Homo sapiens: one gene and its partner. The protein of the gene in region 2 interacts with the protein of the main gene of each other region in a biochemical or structural test. Each region holds a gene or a part of one and is shown on either strand. Other genes may lie near its edges.

The links.
Region 1: of the proteins of PRP4K (region 2) and KLF13, one has a biochemical effect on the other in vitro, tested with the Homo sapiens proteins (one study listed by IntAct).

What each region holds. Positions count from the first base shown.
Region 1 is NC_000015.10:31,329,835-31,337,292, reverse strand, and holds part of KLF13 (Krueppel-like factor 13), read right to left. Parts: intron 1-7,458. UniProt on the Homo sapiens protein: Transcription factor that activates expression from GC-rich minimal promoter regions, including genes in the cells of the erythroid lineage. Represses transcription by binding to the BTE site, a GC-rich DNA element, in competition with the activator SP1.
Region 2 is NC_000006.12:4,015,483-4,025,462, reverse strand, and holds the start of PRP4K (serine/threonine-protein kinase PRP4 homolog), read right to left. Parts: upstream 4,164-9,980; 5' UTR 4,038-4,163; coding exon 3,997-4,037; intron 1-3,996. UniProt on the Homo sapiens protein: Serine/threonine kinase involved in spliceosomal assembly as well as mitosis and signaling regulation. Connects chromatin mediated regulation of transcription and pre-mRNA splicing.

The DNA of each region.
Region 1 (7,458 bases), on a different chromosome or scaffold from region 2:
TGGTGGACAAGCACAGGAGAAACCTTCCACGTGTAAGGCGGGCGGAAGAAGGAAGTAAGACCTCAGCGATGGGATGGAGGGAATCTGAGTCCCTGCCTGCCCTGCCGCAGGCCACTTAGCATGCCTAGTGGGAGAGGGACATGGGGGCAGATGGCACCCCTGTGGATGCCTTCAATGACGAGTAAACAAACCAGACATGGACAGTCATGCAGGTGAGGACAACGGGGCAGTAAGTCTGGAGAGCAGATAGGCCAAACTATGCAAAGCAAGACCATGGAGAGCCTGCCAAATGCTCAGACTGTGTGTCACATTTACATATCCCAGATTCGGATGTGTGGGAACCATGTCATTAACTCCCATTTATCCGCCCTGGTCCCTGAAAATGTGTTGGGGTTTGTTGTTGCTATGATGCCCAGGTGCACCCAAGGTGCTGACCCCGGCTCCCAGATCCTGGCTTTGAGCAGCACCCCAGCCAGTGGCCCAGGTGAATAGCCTTAACCTTTTTGGTAACCCGAGACCAATGACCTGCTGGACCCATGCCCTCTGCCCCACTCCCAGTCAACAAAGGAGTCAGGTTCTGAGACTCACATACGCCTTCGCTCTATTTCCAATCTCTTTTCCAACAATTCCTTGCAGACACCCCTATTCATGCTCTGCCATCAACTTTAACTTCTACCAATACCCCTAAACCAAGTTCCCTGTATTATTTTTCTTGTTTAGTGAGCATTTAGACAATAAAAGGGTTAAAGACAAGTAGAAAGGCTCAGAGAAGTTTATCAGAGGAGGAAATTCTGGCTGTATCACAGGCCCTGCACATACTTAGGTGTGGCCCAAGAAGGACTCTCAGGTCTCGCTAACCCATGCATACCTGTTAGATCTCCAGGGAGCACCTGACCACCTCCCACATGCCAGGACACTTGGCCTCCCCATCCACAGCTTGGACCCACATATGGAAGCACAAGGCTCCTGCCATCCCCAGTGGCCATAGGTCTTGGGGTCACTGCTTTGTTCACAGGCTCTCCTTACTCCAGGAGGAAGACAGATGTGTCCCCCAACGAGGCCAGACCGGGAAAGGATGGTGGCCCCCCCAAGCATTAGCTGCCAGTGCTCCAAAAGGGAATGAGGAGGCCCCACCCAGGGCCCTGACCACTCGCCAGGCTGCTCAGGCATCACCTCACCTCCCATGTGTGTCCAGTGTACGCTGGGGTCGGGGGAGAAGCTCGTGGCTCCTCTGAGCCCACGTCATCCTCTCCCCACTCCCAAGCTTCCTCCCACCTGGCCTGTGCTCACAGGAGACAAGCACGTGACACAACTCCACCTTTAGAAGTTTCTCCTGAGACAGGAGGCCAAGGTAGGCTCTGAGCCACATGCTCTTTGGTAAGCGATTTTTGCTCTGGGCCTTCAATTCTTGCAGAGCTCTTTCATGATGCAGCGTGGGCTCCAGCTTCAAGGAGACGAGCCTGTGCCCTGTGCCTGGGGACCCAGGGTCACCCATCCATGCAGAGTAGGCCACACCCCTGTGGCACCAGCATAAGGACATTTAATCTGAGACATCAAGCTTCAGTGCTTCCCCAAACAAGTCACCTTGGGACAGACTGGCCAATGGCCACGGAGTGCAGCCAAGTTTCTGGTTAGCAAGTGTTTTTGTGTGATGAACTTCAAAAATGGAGAACAATAAACAGAATACTCCCCCTGCCAAGTGTGCTGTCTTGTTTGTCCAGAAAGATGTTGGTAAAAACCAGGGACTGGTCAAGGCTGTGTTTCTGGTGCTCGGTGCCATGCTGTGCCCTCCCCCCGCCCCCTGCCCCGCCACCATACACACACACACACACACACACACACACACACACACACACATACACACACACACAATGCCCAACAGCAAATGGCGATCACAGCCTGGCCCTGCATCAGGAGGGGAACTGAAGCAGTGTGGAGGACACAGGAGCCGGTCACTCTGCTGGGCAGGGCAGCAGGGTGTGAAGGCATAGCCCCTTCACCACAGCCCTAGTTTCAACTGAACAAACTTCATGTCTCCCCCAAAAGCCTGCCTCACAAACAGCTGGTAACATTTGCTGGGGATGAAGACGGACCTAAGATCTAAAACTGAACTAGAAATCAGAAGTTCCACATAGCCACTATGTTCCAGGTGTGGATGCTCCCCCATTCAGCAAGCATGAGCAGGGTGCCACGTCCACTCACACACACACCCATATGTGTTTCTACACATGTACGTGGCTATGGAGGCATACGTGTTTATGGCCAAATGGCAGAGCTTTTGGTTGGGTGAGGATTTCTTCTGTGCCCAGTGCCCGATTGATGCCAAGAGTAAAACAAGTTCGAGTTTCTGTTATTTTGGCCCAGAAGAGTGTCCAAAGCCTTCTGAACTCAGTATCTCCCACCCCGAGGACTGCACTGGTGGCTGTCTCCATGACCCCAACCTCAGCCACACAGCACAGTGGCTGCTTCTGAATTGCCAAGCTGGAGAAAAGTTTATTCCCATCTCGACAGGAAGTTGACTTCTCAAGAAAATAATCCCATTTGGGGCTTTGAAAGGAAAGAAAAGGTCGGGTGTGGTGGCTCATGCCTGTAATCCCAGCACTTTGGGAGGCCGAGGTGGGCAGATCACCTGAGGTCAGGAGTTCGAAACCAGCCTGGCCAACATGGTGAAACCCCGTCTCTACTAAAAATACAAAAATTAGCTGGGCACGGTGGCAGGCGCCTGTAATCCCAGCTACTTGGGAGGCTGAGGCAGGAGAATCACTTGAACCCGGGAGGCGGAGGTTGCAGTGAGCCGAGATTGTGCCATTGCACTCCAGCCTGGGGGACAAGAGCAAGACTTCGTCTCAAAAAAAAAAAAGAAAGAAAGAAAAGAAAAACAGGTTCAGGTGTGTGGACTTAGGACAATTTTTGTTTATTTCTTGAAAGCACATAAAGACTCACCAGGACTTAGAGAGTGTCACCCGCCGTAGGCCCTCCCCAGCCCTAGGAGACAGGCTGCCTGTGGCCACAGGGCCGGCATTCAGGTGGGCTGACCAAGAACACACTCACAGTTACCCTTGAGCTGGCTATTAATACCATCTGGAGCCATTTTCATTCAAAAGAAAATCAGGGTGTCTTGTCTGTTTGGGGAAAGGAGCACCTAGGCCTCCTCCAGGTGGTCCTTTGACTTCAAAAGCCTTCCAAAGCTGAACCCAACCCCCAACATCTCTCCAGTCAAGGAAGCTGGAAGATGGAGTAGAAACCAACCAGGTGGACAGAAGGGGCTGAGCCTGGCCGCCCACCTTAACCATGTGATCCTGCAGTAGGACAGGCTAATATCCCATGCCCTCCCCCCCCCATGAGGCGATGGAAGTGCCCAGTATCACCTGTGCCATATTTTGGACCAAAATTTGTTTAAACCAGACCTGATCACGGGAAACAATCAGACCAATCCACATTGTGAGTTGTTCTACAAGACAACTGGCTTTGGGCCTTCAAATGCCAGCGTAACATAATAAAGGACCAAAAGATGGGAAACTATCCTAAACTAAGGGAAACTAGAGAGGACAACCAAATGCAATGTGTGATTAACTGGATCCTGAATCCTATACTGGACATTTTAGGAATCACTAGGGGAACTGAATATGGACTGCGTATCAGATAATATATAATATTTAAAGAGAGAGGCGAGATGGAAAAGGGAGAAAAATATAGACAAAAAATTAATTTTTCTTTCTTTAGAAAGAAAAAGAGAAGGAGGAAAGGAGAAAAATGTGGCAAAATATTACCCAATGACCCTATGGGAAGAGTATAGGAGTGTTCACTATACTACTCCCTCAACCTTTAAGAAGCAGCAAAAATCTGTGCGGGAAGCCGTGTGCTGGGGACATCCAGATTTCTACTACCACAGGGCCCTGCTCACCTGCAGTGACCTGAAACACTGGTCCAGACAGGAGTGGCAGTAGGACACAGCAGGTACACCCACCTCGGGGGCGGCTGCCCAGGCTCAAGCCCCAGCTCCAATCCCTGTTCCACCCTCACTTACTGTGTGACCTTGGGCATGATTCCTAAAGCACTGGAGCCTTAGCTTCCTTATTTGAAATTTAGTATTAATAATAGAGCCTACTTCATAGGGTCCTTGTGAAGATTAGATAGCTTGATGTAAACTAACACAAACAGAATGATGCCTGGCCCCTAGAGCAAACAGTCTGGAAGTCTTAGGATTGTGAAAGTTGAGTGTACTATTCTAGAAGTTTTTATTTTTAAAACTATTTTAATTGCTTCCTGAAAGCACAAACTGAACACACTTCACAGTGCCATGGTATCTCAAGATCCCTGCTAGAGTGTTCATTATTCCAGGGTCTCTCATGCAGACCTCAGGGATTGCTGCGGAGAAACATGTGCCTCTCCACAAATGGCCCCATGCTTGTTCCAGTGCTGGTTGACTGTAGGGCTTCTTCATGACCCATTTAAACACACACACTTACACATGCATATGTTAACAACCTGCTGGTTTGTTTCTTCCCCTGCCTTTAGCTGCCATCCATGTCTTTTGCCCTTCCCCAGTAACCAATCAGATTAAAGCTATGTGTAAAGTGGGAGCACACAGGATCTAAGGGCAGGAGGCTGTCAGAAGCTTGAGAATTGGGCTTCAGGGCACCTACTCAGAAGGATCAGGCCCCCATCTCTGCTGTGTTCCAGACATGTGAAGCCCCAGACACAGGCTACTGGTTTAATGAACTGCGTCCTATCAGTTTGCTCAGGCAGCACAGCTTCCAGCCTTCTTTCAGCGAGGGGGAAGGGGGGAGTGGAGATGGCGCCACACCAGCCCCCATCCTACTGCTCCAGGGCTGAGCGCCCACCACACACTTTCCAATCTCTGTAAAACCAGAACTGAAGATGGCCAAGAGAGCCAGCCACCAGGCGTGCGGGAGTGACAGTGGTTTTGCTGGTACTGTTTTAAACGTTCTCAATGTTCTCACACATGCAAAAGGAGAATTGGGAGAAGGAAACATTTTCAAGAAGGTGGAGTCGTGACACAATAGGTCTCTCCCTCAGAGCGGGGACTAACAAGTGTGGTCTCTTTCCTTGAAAAACATAACACAGTAACTCCACAACACATTTAACCAACACTTATCAACCCTGTCAATACCACCACTAGGTCTCAATCCTACAGAAATGCCAGCTCCTCTGCACCAAGACACACACACACCAGAGTCCACTACTACACAACTTGTAATAGCAGAAAAAACAAAAAAAAGGCAATGTAGCTGTCCTTTCCATAAGTGAAGGGTAAATAAGTTACAATGCAGCCATATAACCACATCTTGGAATACCATGCGGCTGTGAAAAAGAATGAAGATGCCTCATTTAAGCAAACACATGGAACAAAATGCCAGCAGTGAGATACTTGCTAGGATCCTATTTAAGTATGTTTCAAAATGTCTACGTGGACACACACATATGCATATGTGCAAATCCATCTAGAAGGTCTGTAAAGAAAAACACCAACGCGGGGTAACAGTGGTTTGGTGGTGGTGCAGGCTGGCACCTCCCATGCTGCATACATTTCTGCATTGTTTGAGGAGTTTCACAACTAGGGCCACTGGCAGCCTGGGACAGCGAGGGTACGAGAGGGAGGGGTGGGCGTGCTGAGCCACTGGCCTGTGTGTGTCTCTGAACAAAGCACAGGCCACCAACAAGCCTGGCTTTGCCCTGGGTAAAGGAGATCCCACCCAGATGCCCTCTGCTCTGCCAGATGCCCTCTGCTCTGCTTTCCCAGGCAGCAGCATCAGGGAGGACCTGCAGGGAGCCCAAGGGGCGGTGTGCTTGGAAACAAGTCTCTAAAGCCAGAGTGTGCCCTGGGGGAGGGGTCGCAATAATCTGTCAGGATCAAATCCTTGCTTCAGTGGGTAAAGATAAATTTCAGGTGAACCCCACCCAAATTATCACAGGAAATGGCTGACAGAATGTGATCTTACTCTACTTCCCTCCTCCACCCCAAACAGGGCCAGGTGACCACAAACATGCCTCGGGTTCTGCAGGAGGGAAGGCTGGGCACGCCACTGTGCCCACCTTTCCATGGGACCCCCAGAACCCAGAAAGGGCCCAGCATGCAGAGAGATGTTTTGACTCCAGCGCTGGAGGGAAAACAGGGCACAGAGCAGTTTTGAAAACAATTCTCTGTGGGAACAAATAGGTAGAAATGTATTCAGGGTCTCTCTGCCAAGAAAGACCAAGTGGCCATTCTGCTGGGGGCCTGCCAAGTCTCCCCATTCAGGACAACACGCAGGACTCTCCAGAGGCAGGATCTGGGCAACCAGTCTGCCCTCAAGAGGGCCCCAGCCTGACCTATCGAAGGTGAGTCCTTGAATTCCTGCATCAAAGCACCTCAGGTTCCAAGAAAATCTGCTCCTGGTCTTGCTGCTCCCCTAAGCCCCTCTTAGCAAACTTTCCAGGTCTGGACTCGGAAGTTCTAATTGGCCAAATAATAAAGTAGCACGAGCTGCAAAGATGTTTTTCTTGGTTTTGTGTTATTACGCATTGTTATAATATCAACAATTACCTAAATGTGACAGAGACCAATGTGTCCACAGGATAACTCCTGGAAGAGTGGGAGTGGGAAACCACACTGCTACACAGCTAACCAGGACAGAAAGCTCTTAGCATGCAGCTGTTCAGAGAGTGGGGGTGGAAAATCAGAGCAGAGCCACGGCCAAGGGACCACAAGTGCCTCCAGAGTCAAGGCTGACCCTTGCACTTCTCAAAGGGTCTTCACATACTTGACCTCATGTCCCTGAAGACTTTGCAGGTGGTCAGGGCAGACATCACCAAGTTGCAGGGAGATCTGGGAACCGGTCCCTGGTCACATAGAGGAACAGCACAGAGCAGCTGGCCACCTTCCTGGTTGTGATATTCACCCTCTGCCATGAAATTACTGTGGATCCTGGAAATGCGGGAAGTGGGGCGGGGGCACCTTCCCGAGCCTAATGGAGTACGGGGCCCGGCATGACCTCAGTCACTGACTGCAGAGACCCCACAATGCTGCTAGAGGCCCACAAACCACGGACACCTCAGAGCCCACGGCTGCAGCAAAGCCATCACCTTGTGCCCTGCCTTCTCAGTCATCCCTGAGGCCTGCCTGGGTTTCTCCCTTCTGCAAGATGCTCTTTTCTCCCCCAACAGCAAGCTCCTCTTCTCCCTTGAGGAACACCAGTTACTTATGCTCTGCACACCTGGGAAGGGGCTGGAAATGGGCTTCCCAGGGGTGCCCTCCACCAGATGCTGAACCAGACTCCCTCCAGAGGCAGGTTTCTGGGCAGTTCAACTCTCATAATGGGTCACCTGGGGTACCGGTAACATGCACTCCCAACTGCACGCTGGAACTGTGTGTACTAGGTCGGCATCAGGGGCCCGGAAATCTGCATTCTTCCCAACTCCCCGCCACCCCGCTGCCGGAGCCCTGTGCACTTCCAA
Region 2 (9,980 bases):
CAACTCATCTCTCAATGCAAATGTCACAAATCACAACTAAAGTCTGACCAGGTCAATCTGGAAAACTTGAAACATTGAGTCAATGGCATAATGTATTACATACAATGGGCCTGTGCTAAAACAGCTAAATTAGCTTTATCATCAACGACTTTCTTCTAAAGCTCAAGAAAAAGGTTTCTTGTTAAGAAACCTAACGGCCCTCTTGGATAGTTTATACTGACAATAAATATAGGCCATATATATTTCATTTATATAAATTTACGCTTTAACATTAACATTTTACAATTTAATATCCCACATTTAGCCAAGTGGATGTGTATACCAACCTGGTCACAACAGGTTTATCACAAAATATTTATTGAGAACCTATTGAATATTGGATAACATTCTTCAGATCACATTATTTGGAAGCAAAGGTGAATGAGAAGTGCAGACAACATGGGGTTGCTTAACAGTATTTATTTGTTTTGTTAAGTTTTACCTTTTAAAAAACCCATGTCTTGAGGCACCCAGCACAATGAATGAAAATCGTGGAACGCCTTTAAAATAACATAGTCACGGTCAGGTGCAGTGGCTTATGACTGTAATCCCAACACTTTTGGGAGGCTGAGACTGGCGGATCACCTGAGGTCAGGAGTTTGAGACCAGCCTGGCCAATATGGTGAAATCCCGTCTCTACTAAAAATACAAAAATTAGCACGGCATGGTGGTGCGTGCCTGTAATCCCAGCTACTCGGGAGACAGAGACAGGAGAATCACTTGAACCTGGGACGCAGAGGTTGCAGTGAGCCAAGATTGCGCTACTGCACTCCAGCCTGGGCAACAGAGACTCGGTCTCAAAAAAATAAAATAGTCACCAATCACCAACCACCAGTGTTATTTTAACTTCTTCTTTCACATTTTTTTCCAAACAATAGTCTTAGTGAATTTATTTGGTAGGCATTCAAAATATACAGAGACACAGAGAACTGACTGATTTAAATTTGTGTATGAATAAAGCCGTTTTTAAGCTAGACAATTCTTTAAATTTTTTTTTAGTGGCGAGCAAAGTGAACGCCACTGCTATTTACCAGGAAAGTAATTAAGCCTATTTCTCTGACAAGTTAAAATGTATATATCTTTTAAGAAACTGGGTCTCACTATGTTGCCTGGGCTAGATTCAAACTCCTAGGCTCAAATGATCCTCCTGCCTCAGACTCCCTAGTACCTGCAGCACTTGAGCCCAGTAGTTCAAGAACAGCCTGGGCAACATGGGAAGACTCTGCCTCTACAAAAATACTTAAAAATTAGCTAGGCATGGCTCGGCACGGTAGCTCACGCCTGTAATCCCAGAACTTTGGGAGTCTGAGGTGGGCGGATCACGAGGTCAGGAGATCGGGACCATCCTGGCCAACAAGGTGAAACCCCATCTCTACTAAAAATACAAAAATTAGCTGGGCGTGGTGGTACGTGCCTGTAATCCCAGCTACTCGGGAGGCTGAGGCAGGAGAACTGCTTGAACCAGGGAGTCCAAGGTTTCAGTGAGCCAAGATCGCACCACTGCAATCTAGCCTGGAGAGAAAGTGAAACTCCGTCTCAAAAAAAAAAAAATTAGCTGGGCATGGTGTCATATGCCTGTGGTCCCAGCTACTCCGGAGGCTGGAGTAGGAGGATCACTTGAGGCTGAGGCTACAATGAGCCATGATAATGTTACTGTACTCCAGTCTGGGTGACAAGAGCTCGTGTTTCAAAAATAAATAAAATGAACAAAAAGAATTAATGTAGCTATAAAAATCAGAATGGGTCCAAAAGACCAACTAGTCTTAAAACATTCCCTCTGGTCTCTGCTTTGCCAAATCAGGTTTGAGAAATTAGTTCTCAATAAATTAGACATGTCACATCAAAAAATGTATCTTTCTGGGACAGTGGAAAAAAACAAAAATAATTTCATACTTGACAAGCAATTTAAAAAGAAGCCACATTGTATAGTGGGAGGCCAGACAGTACAATAGTTAGCAGCAGGGCTTTAGAACCAGACTGCCTGAGTTTAAATGGGTGTGCCACTGAGTGTGACCTTGAGCAAGTTACTTAATTTCTCTGTGTTTCAGTTTCATCATCTCTAAAATAAGGAAAATAAACGTATCTACCTCCATAGGGTTGTTAAAAGAATTAAAGCCTTCAGGGAGCTTAAAAGCTGCTTCTTATATTTATTCTTTCTAAATTTTCTGTTTTGAATAGATTCTATATAACTGTAAACTACTCAGTGTTCTCTAAAGAACTGTTGTAGACACTATATTCAGGGACTCACTATGAGCACCAGGCATAGTTTGCTTTCATACCAAATGGTTATCTTCTTTGTTAAATACTTTCAAACTACTGAAAGTGAGACATATACAGACCAAATATTCCATTTACACCAAGTGCTCTGTGGGGAAGGGAAGGGAAATTAAAGATTATCTCTGTTACTCATACAGCAGAGGCCTAAATATGTATTTTTGAAATTATTAAGTCTAATATTATTTGAATACAGTATGTGAATAAACTATGGCTGACCCACTCCTGGAAATGAATCTGAAACATCCCTAAAATCAAATAAATGGACATAATATTACAGAACTTTTCAGATTAGTAGAAAATGTAACCACATAGCATGAGATCTGCACGGTACTGGCATAAACACTGTAATTGTGCCACACAATGAACTTGGTGAGAAACAGTAAGAGGTTAAAGCTAATTTAAAACTTCAGAATCCATTTGTTCTCTGCTAAGTCAAATTGTAAAAATAATACAGCAGTTTTGAAAAGCCCTTAATTAAAAATTCCGTTTCTCTGCCTAGCTGAGTAATGCAGATGATTGAGGAGCCCAAAACTGGATGCACAGCAATTAAGTGTCAGGTTGTCTGGTGGCAAAGATTTCTTCTATCGCTCAGTCACAAGTTGCTGGGAGACTATACCTCTTTCTAAGATGGCTGGAAACAGATCAGACAGTGCAGATGCAAAAAAAAACAAAAAACAAAACAAAAAAAAAAAACGGTCGCTATAGGAACATTGCCGTAAAATCCATTCTCTCTGTTAAGGTTCTTGTTTGAGTTTTCCTAACATAGACATGAACAGCAAAATACTGCTTTAAGTTAACCAATGGTTAACCTTTGCAGCATACACTCGTATTTTTTTTTTTTTCATTTTTCATTTGGCCGCATGGATTCTTAATGTTAGCTTAATTATAGACATAAAGTGGTTTGGCAGTAGCTAGCAATTCCCACTACTCCTTCCACTCGTCCTCCTAAAGAAGGGTTATAAACTCAGGCAAAAAAAAAAAAAAAAAAAAAATGCCAGGCCTCAAAACCAAAGACTCTATCTTACTTTGCCTCAAGTTTGCAAGTTGGTAAAAAAGCTGCCGGTAGGCACTCAAAACAAAACAAAACAATACTGGGTGACTGCTGGACTAAAGAGTACAAGGTGACGAGATCAAGTATCCCGCTAGCCACAGACTAGCTCTGGGATGGCCAGAGAGTGTGACCCCAGCACCTCCGCTCTCTGCTTTCAGGTCCTAAACTGACACCAGTAAAAGGACGACTGGGGGTACCGCATGAGGAAGAAAAGACTTAGGGCTTGGCCCGCCTGCTGCCACTGACCCTCGTGTCCCCAACACAGATGCCGCTAAGAGCTGCGGCCAGGGAGCTCAGATGGGTCCCCAAAAGAGGCATAGGAAAGCGCGACCTCACTGCCGCGGCAGCCGCCACGCGCACCGGACCTGTAGAGGCCGCTCGCGCCTACGCCTCCCGGGGCAACGACGCGCGGCAGGCCGCGGCCGCCTTCACCCCAGCAGCCACGGCCTCTGGGAGAAGGAAGCTCGAAGGCCGCCTGCTCCCCATGCCTCCCACCCCACAACGAATCGCGCCGGAAAAAGCAAAGTTTGACTCTCGCCGTTAGGCCCGAACTTTCCCGCCACCCCGTGCAGCTCCCACTCGGCAGTCCCCGGGCTCCAGCTTCTGGCCCACTCACAGAGACTACTTACTCTGGCTGCTCCCGTAGCGACTGGGTCTCCGCGGCGGCCATCTTGAACTTCCTGACTCCTCGGCGGCGGTGGCGGCGGCTCCCGGACGGTGGAGGGTAGGGGAAGTGGAGGAAGAAGGAAAAGAGCTGCCGCGCATGTGCCGACCGTGTAGGGAAGAGCTGGGTTCTGAGTCCGCGCTAAGAATCCGGATATAAAACCCCACGTCCCGGGACTAGCGCAGGGCGTAGTGTCGCAGCTTCCGGGAGCATGGTGGGCGGTGCTGCTAAGGATTGAGGTCGAGTGTCAAGCTTGAGCTCTTCAGTCAATGCTAGAAATGGACGTTTAGTTATTGAATCCCGCTAACGAGGGGAGCCAACAAGAGAGGGATGTCGGCATCGGGTGTGCGGTTCCAAGAACTGATTGGCTGTGGAGATTAGAAGTTAGGTGAAAATTCTCTTAAACTCGGGCAAACGAATTGATGATTTTTCCCCTGGTCGGTGTTAGAGACACAGTAAATGCTTAACCATCTCGCTAGACAGCTCAACTGAAGTGGCATTAACTTCCCGGGAAAGTGTGTAGAAAGGCATTTTTAAATACTGTAAACTCGAACGTAAATATCTTTTAATGTGGAACTGTTACTACATTTAACACTGAACATCTTTTCAACTTTTACATAGTTCAAGGGTGACACGATTCAGTTCGTTATTTCCGTAATTGGAACGTGTAATGTTTTTTGGCCCAAGTTGCGTTATGTGATTTTGTTTTCTTCTATAACGACTCTACAGTAATGGGGTAGAATGGAATATTGTGGGGAAAACATTTACTGGCTCTTGGAGAACTCTCAAAACCAATTAGGTTCTTTAATTCCTCTTTAAAAAAATATTTCTCGCCTGGCGCTGTGGCTCACCCCTGTAATCCCAGCACCTTGGGAGGCCGAGGCGGGCGGATCACCTGAGGCCAGGATTTGGAGACCAGCCTGGCCAACATGGTGAAACCCCGTCTCTATTAAAAATACAAAAAATTAGCTGGGCGTGGTGGCGCTCGCCTATAATCCCAGCTACTCCGGAGGCTGAGGCAGGAGAATCGCTTGAACCCGAGAGGCGGAGTTTGCACTGAGATCACGCCACTGCACTCCAGCCTGGGCGACAGAGCAAGATTCCATCTCAAAAAAAAAAAAAAAATTATCCATACTTTGGAACCTGGAAGCAGCGTGACGATCACTTTCATTCTTGTAATCATCTGAGTTTGCCTTTGTCCTAGAAAATTGAGTTCGGAATCTCCAGACTCCATACATATCTCTTGATTTCCAGGGGAGAAGGGTTTTAAATGTTCTTACAAAATGTCTCTTGTTGCCTGAATTCCAAACGTTTTGAAATGTTAGGGCCGGGCGCGGTGGCTCACGCCTGCAATCCTCTAGCACTTTGGGAGGCCGAGGCGGGCGGATTGCCTGAACTCAAGAGTTCGAGTCCAGCCTGGCCAACATAGCGAAACTCCGTCTCTGCTAAAAATACAAAAAATTAGCCGGCGTGGTGGCGCCTGTAGTCTCAGCTACTCGGGAGGCTGAGGCAAGAGAATCGCTTGAACCCGGGAGGCCGAGATCGCGCCATTGCACTCCAGCCTGGGCAACAAAAGCAAAAACGCCGTCTCAAATAAATAAATGAAATAAACTTAGTAAACTATTTTTAAATAATGTTAAAATTAACGGTGTACGTAGTAGAACTGTGAGAGATCTCATCTTGGAAATAGAGTGATATACTTGAAGGCAAGAGATTGGGTCAGGTACTATTAACACGTTTTACACATGAACAAACCGACACTAAGAGGTAAGGTAATTTGCTTATGATTGAGTTCCCAAGTACAAAGCTGATTTTTGAACTAAAATCTGACTCGAAAATCTGCTCTTTTCTTATCAGGCTGCTTCCTACAAAAATATAACCTCGCTTAGCATCTGCTTGTTAAGCATCCACCCTCACAGCTCTTTGGCATTCAAATGTTTGTTGAGTAGGGGTAATAGAGCACTACGTTCGAATCAGAAAATGCCTTATTTTTCCTTGCTTGCAAGAGCCTATTATAAATAAATGCCTTGTTTTCGCTGTGTCTCTTTCTTGTTGTCGAGAGCTCAGGCTGGTCTTAATTTCTGCAACCATAGTATTATCTCCCAGGTCTCCTTCTGCCCTGTGTATTTTGCAGTTATGCTTTATGTGGAGATGAAGCATCCTAAGTGTGGAGAACGATATATGGGGCCCGAACAATAGGTGCTGAAGCCAGATTGTGTGACTAAAGTTGGTATTTGAACAAACCAAGTGTTTATTTTTTTAAAGAGCATGGTAAAAACTAAGTTTCAAAAATCGATGCTGGCAAAAATTTCCTTGAAAAAATTCTCACCAAGTTCACTTGCACGGTACTACCTGGGGAATGAAACACATTTGTCAAGGACACGCCCAAAACTATGTTGCTGTTGTAATTTTCAAAGACTGGGAACTGCGGCAGGGGGAGTTACAATTAAAGCAAACATCGGCGTATCAGTTTATTCATTCAGCAAACGTTTATGAAGCAACAAACGTATGCCCAATATTTCAGTCTTGCTGCTCTTCCTCCCCAAATTCAGGAACCTTTGCAACGGAAAGCGGCCTCGGGCAGGCGCCTTTTGAGCAGAGGAGTAAAACCGGTAAGTCAGCAGTGGAACCCGCCTCCCCGGAAATCCTTGGAGGGGGCGGGGCCCTGGGGAGCGCGCTCTTCCCAGCGGCAGCTGGGGAGGCGCATGCGTACTTGCGTCATCGTTGGGTAGCAGCGGGGAGGCGTGGGAGGATCTGAGGCCTGCGGTGGGCCTTGGTCCCTTCTCTCCCCGCCCCGAAGCCGCCTGCTCAACCTGAGGGCCACCGGCCTCTATCCGTCGGTGCCGATGCTCCTTGCTTCCCAGCCAGAGCGTCTCATCTCTGGGCCCGGAGCCCCAGGCTCGTTCTCCTCAGCCCCTGCCGGCGGCGGCGCTCTTGCAGCCATTCCTGTGAGGTCGTTTTTCGGAGCAGCCGGGCCGGCCGAGGAGTAAGTAGGCGCCAGAGTTCTAGCTCGGGCATCTGCCTCGGGGCCCTGTCGCCGCCGCGCCCCGGATCCTGCGTTGGTCCTGTCCGATAAAGCGGAGGTCGGCCCTGCTTGCTGACGAGACCGTAAAAACCACGGCGCTTGGCGCCCTGCCGCCGCCACACCACACCAAAGTGTACCTGCCCGAGGCTGGCTTCGGGCGCGAGCTTGCATTTGTGACTTTCTCTTACCGTCTTTGTTTGCTTCGTTTTAAGTATTACTTCCAGATAAGGGACACATTCTCGAAATACTTTGAAAACAGTTTTGAATTTTGTTCCTCCCGTTGAAACGGATTAAATTTGGACCTTTCAAGCTACACTGTGCAATCATCAATCTCAATAAGCTCTTAATAGGCTCATTCTTCCGTAGGCTACAAACAAAATAAAGATCATAACATCCTGCGGAGGAAGCCATTGGTCCATGTAGAGTCGCCAGATGTCAATTAAGAGTAGATCGCTTTTCAGAGAATACTTAACGACTCTGGTTTAGACCTAGACTTGGAACTTTGAGGTGTTTGGAACACTGGGCAGAATTTTCCTTTGTTACAAAACAAAGTTTATGAGAACGTAATTTGTTTTTGTTGTTTTTGTTGTTAGTATTGAAGCAATTTTGGTGCAAACCAAAGGATAACAAAGCAAAACAATGAAAATCACCCAGAGTTCCATTACCCACACTGAACCAACTTGAATATATTGGTTTATTTTGGCTTTTTTCCATATGAAATGTTAAATTTTCTTGTACTCACGTGTAGAATATGATAGTTTGCTCTTTCATGTAACATGTCTCCCAATTTTTACATACATAATTCTAGTTTCAGTAAGCATTTTTATAACTACACTCTTTTTCCTTTGTTATTGTATGTCTAGGTTATTTCAACTTTGCACTGTTGCTTGTAACTACTATGTGATGAGGCAGTAGCTAGATTAGTATTTAGAACGTGAGCATTCAAGTCAGGCAGACCTGGGCTTCACAACTTACTGTGCAATTTCAAAGAGTTTAACTTTTTTGAGCCTCATTTTACACAGTAACATGGGGATAATGGTTCTGATTGCATAGAATTATTATGAGAGTAAGATGAAATAATGAGTGGAAGTGCCTGCAGCATGTATTGTTAGTAAATGCTGTATTACTGCAGGCAAATTTTTCTTTTGTTGTGGTTTTTTGGTGACATGTATGATTTATTTCCAGATTTTGAATATACTTAAATACTATTAACCACAGTAGGGGTATGGGGTTTGATCCACAGCTTTTCATATATTTTATACAATATATTGTGTGTTTGATACACAGCTTTTCATATACTTTATTATAAGTAACACATGAATTAGAAATAATTTTTCACAATAGGAAAAACTTTTTAAAAATTAAAATTTATAATCCTGCTAACCGTAGGTGAATAGTCACATTTTGGGCAATCCTTTTTTATGCATATATATGTAGTGGTTTTATTTTATTTTATTTTATTTTTATTTTTTGAAACGGAGTCTTGCTCTGTTGCTCAGGCTAGGGTGCAATGGTGCGACCTCGGCTCACTGCAACCTCCGCCTCACGGGTTCAAGCAATTCTCCTGCCTCAGCCTCCCGAGTAGCTGGGATTACAGGCGCCCGCCGCTGCGCCCGGCTAATTTTTATATTTTTAGTAGAGACGGGGTTTCACCATCTTGGCCAGGCTGGTCTCGAACTCCTGACCTCGTGATCCACTCGCCTCAGCCTCCCAAAGTGCTGGGATTACAGGCATGAGCCACCGTGCTGGGCCTGTAGTGTTTTCTAAAAATAGAATTATATTATAAATTGGGTTTATCAACTTGCTGAAAATGGCAGAGGCCAGTGCGATGAGAGTAGGGTGATTAAGGGAGTAGGAAGTAATGCAGGAAAGGGAGTTTGTAGGATTTAGATTTCACTGAAAGTGTACTGGACAGGTTGGGCATAGTGGCTCAGGCCTGTAATTGTGTCACTTTGGGAGGCTGAAGTGGAAAGATCCCTTAAGCCCAGGAGTTCGAGCCAGCCTGGGCAACATAGGGAAACCCTATCTCTATAAAATAAAAATAAAAATAATTATTTTGAAAAAAAAGTTTACTGGACAGAGTAAGTTCAGGGTTGAGGAGTGACCTGATTTGTTTTAGAAGGCTCATTTGGCTGCCATATGGAGATAGACTGCAAGGGACCAGGGGAGGAAGATGCAATCCAATTAGGAGAGTATTTAAGTAATCTCTGTGAGAGATGGTGTTAGTTTCGATCAGGGTGTAAGTAGGGAAAAATGATTGGGTTCTGGATATATTTTGAAGGGAGAAGTTATAGGATTCACTGATTGATGGGATGTGGAATTCAAGAGAAAGTGACTTAAAGAATTTTGGTTTGGGCAGTTAAACAGATACAGTTGCTACTTACCAAGATAGAGACTGAAAGTTGGGGGAAACTAAATAGAGTTCTGTTTCAGTCATGTTACCTGTTGTGGAGTCTAACTAGTTGGAACAGGAGTATGAAAGACTTAATCTTCTGTTCTTGAGGTATCAATTTGTCCCTTCATTTCTGTCAGTTTTTGCTACATATATTCTGTTACTAGGTGCATCTATCCTTGTAAATTGTTACATCTTCCTTGTGGGTTTATCCTTTTATCATTAAAAATGTTTCTCTTTTTCTCTAGTAACATTGTTTTAAAGTCTATTTTGTCTGATATTAATGTAGCTATTTCAGTTCTCACGTGATTACTATTTACATGCTTTGTATCATTGACTCTAAAATGTGTCTCCTGTAGACATATAGTTGGATCTTGGTTTGTTTTTTGTTTGTTTGTTTGTTTTTTGTTTTGAGACAGAGTCTTGCCCTGCCTCCTTGGCTGGAGTACAATGGCGTGATCTGGGCTCACTGCAACCTCCACCTCCCGGGTTCAGACGATTCTCCCACCTCAGCCTCCCCAGTAACTGGGAT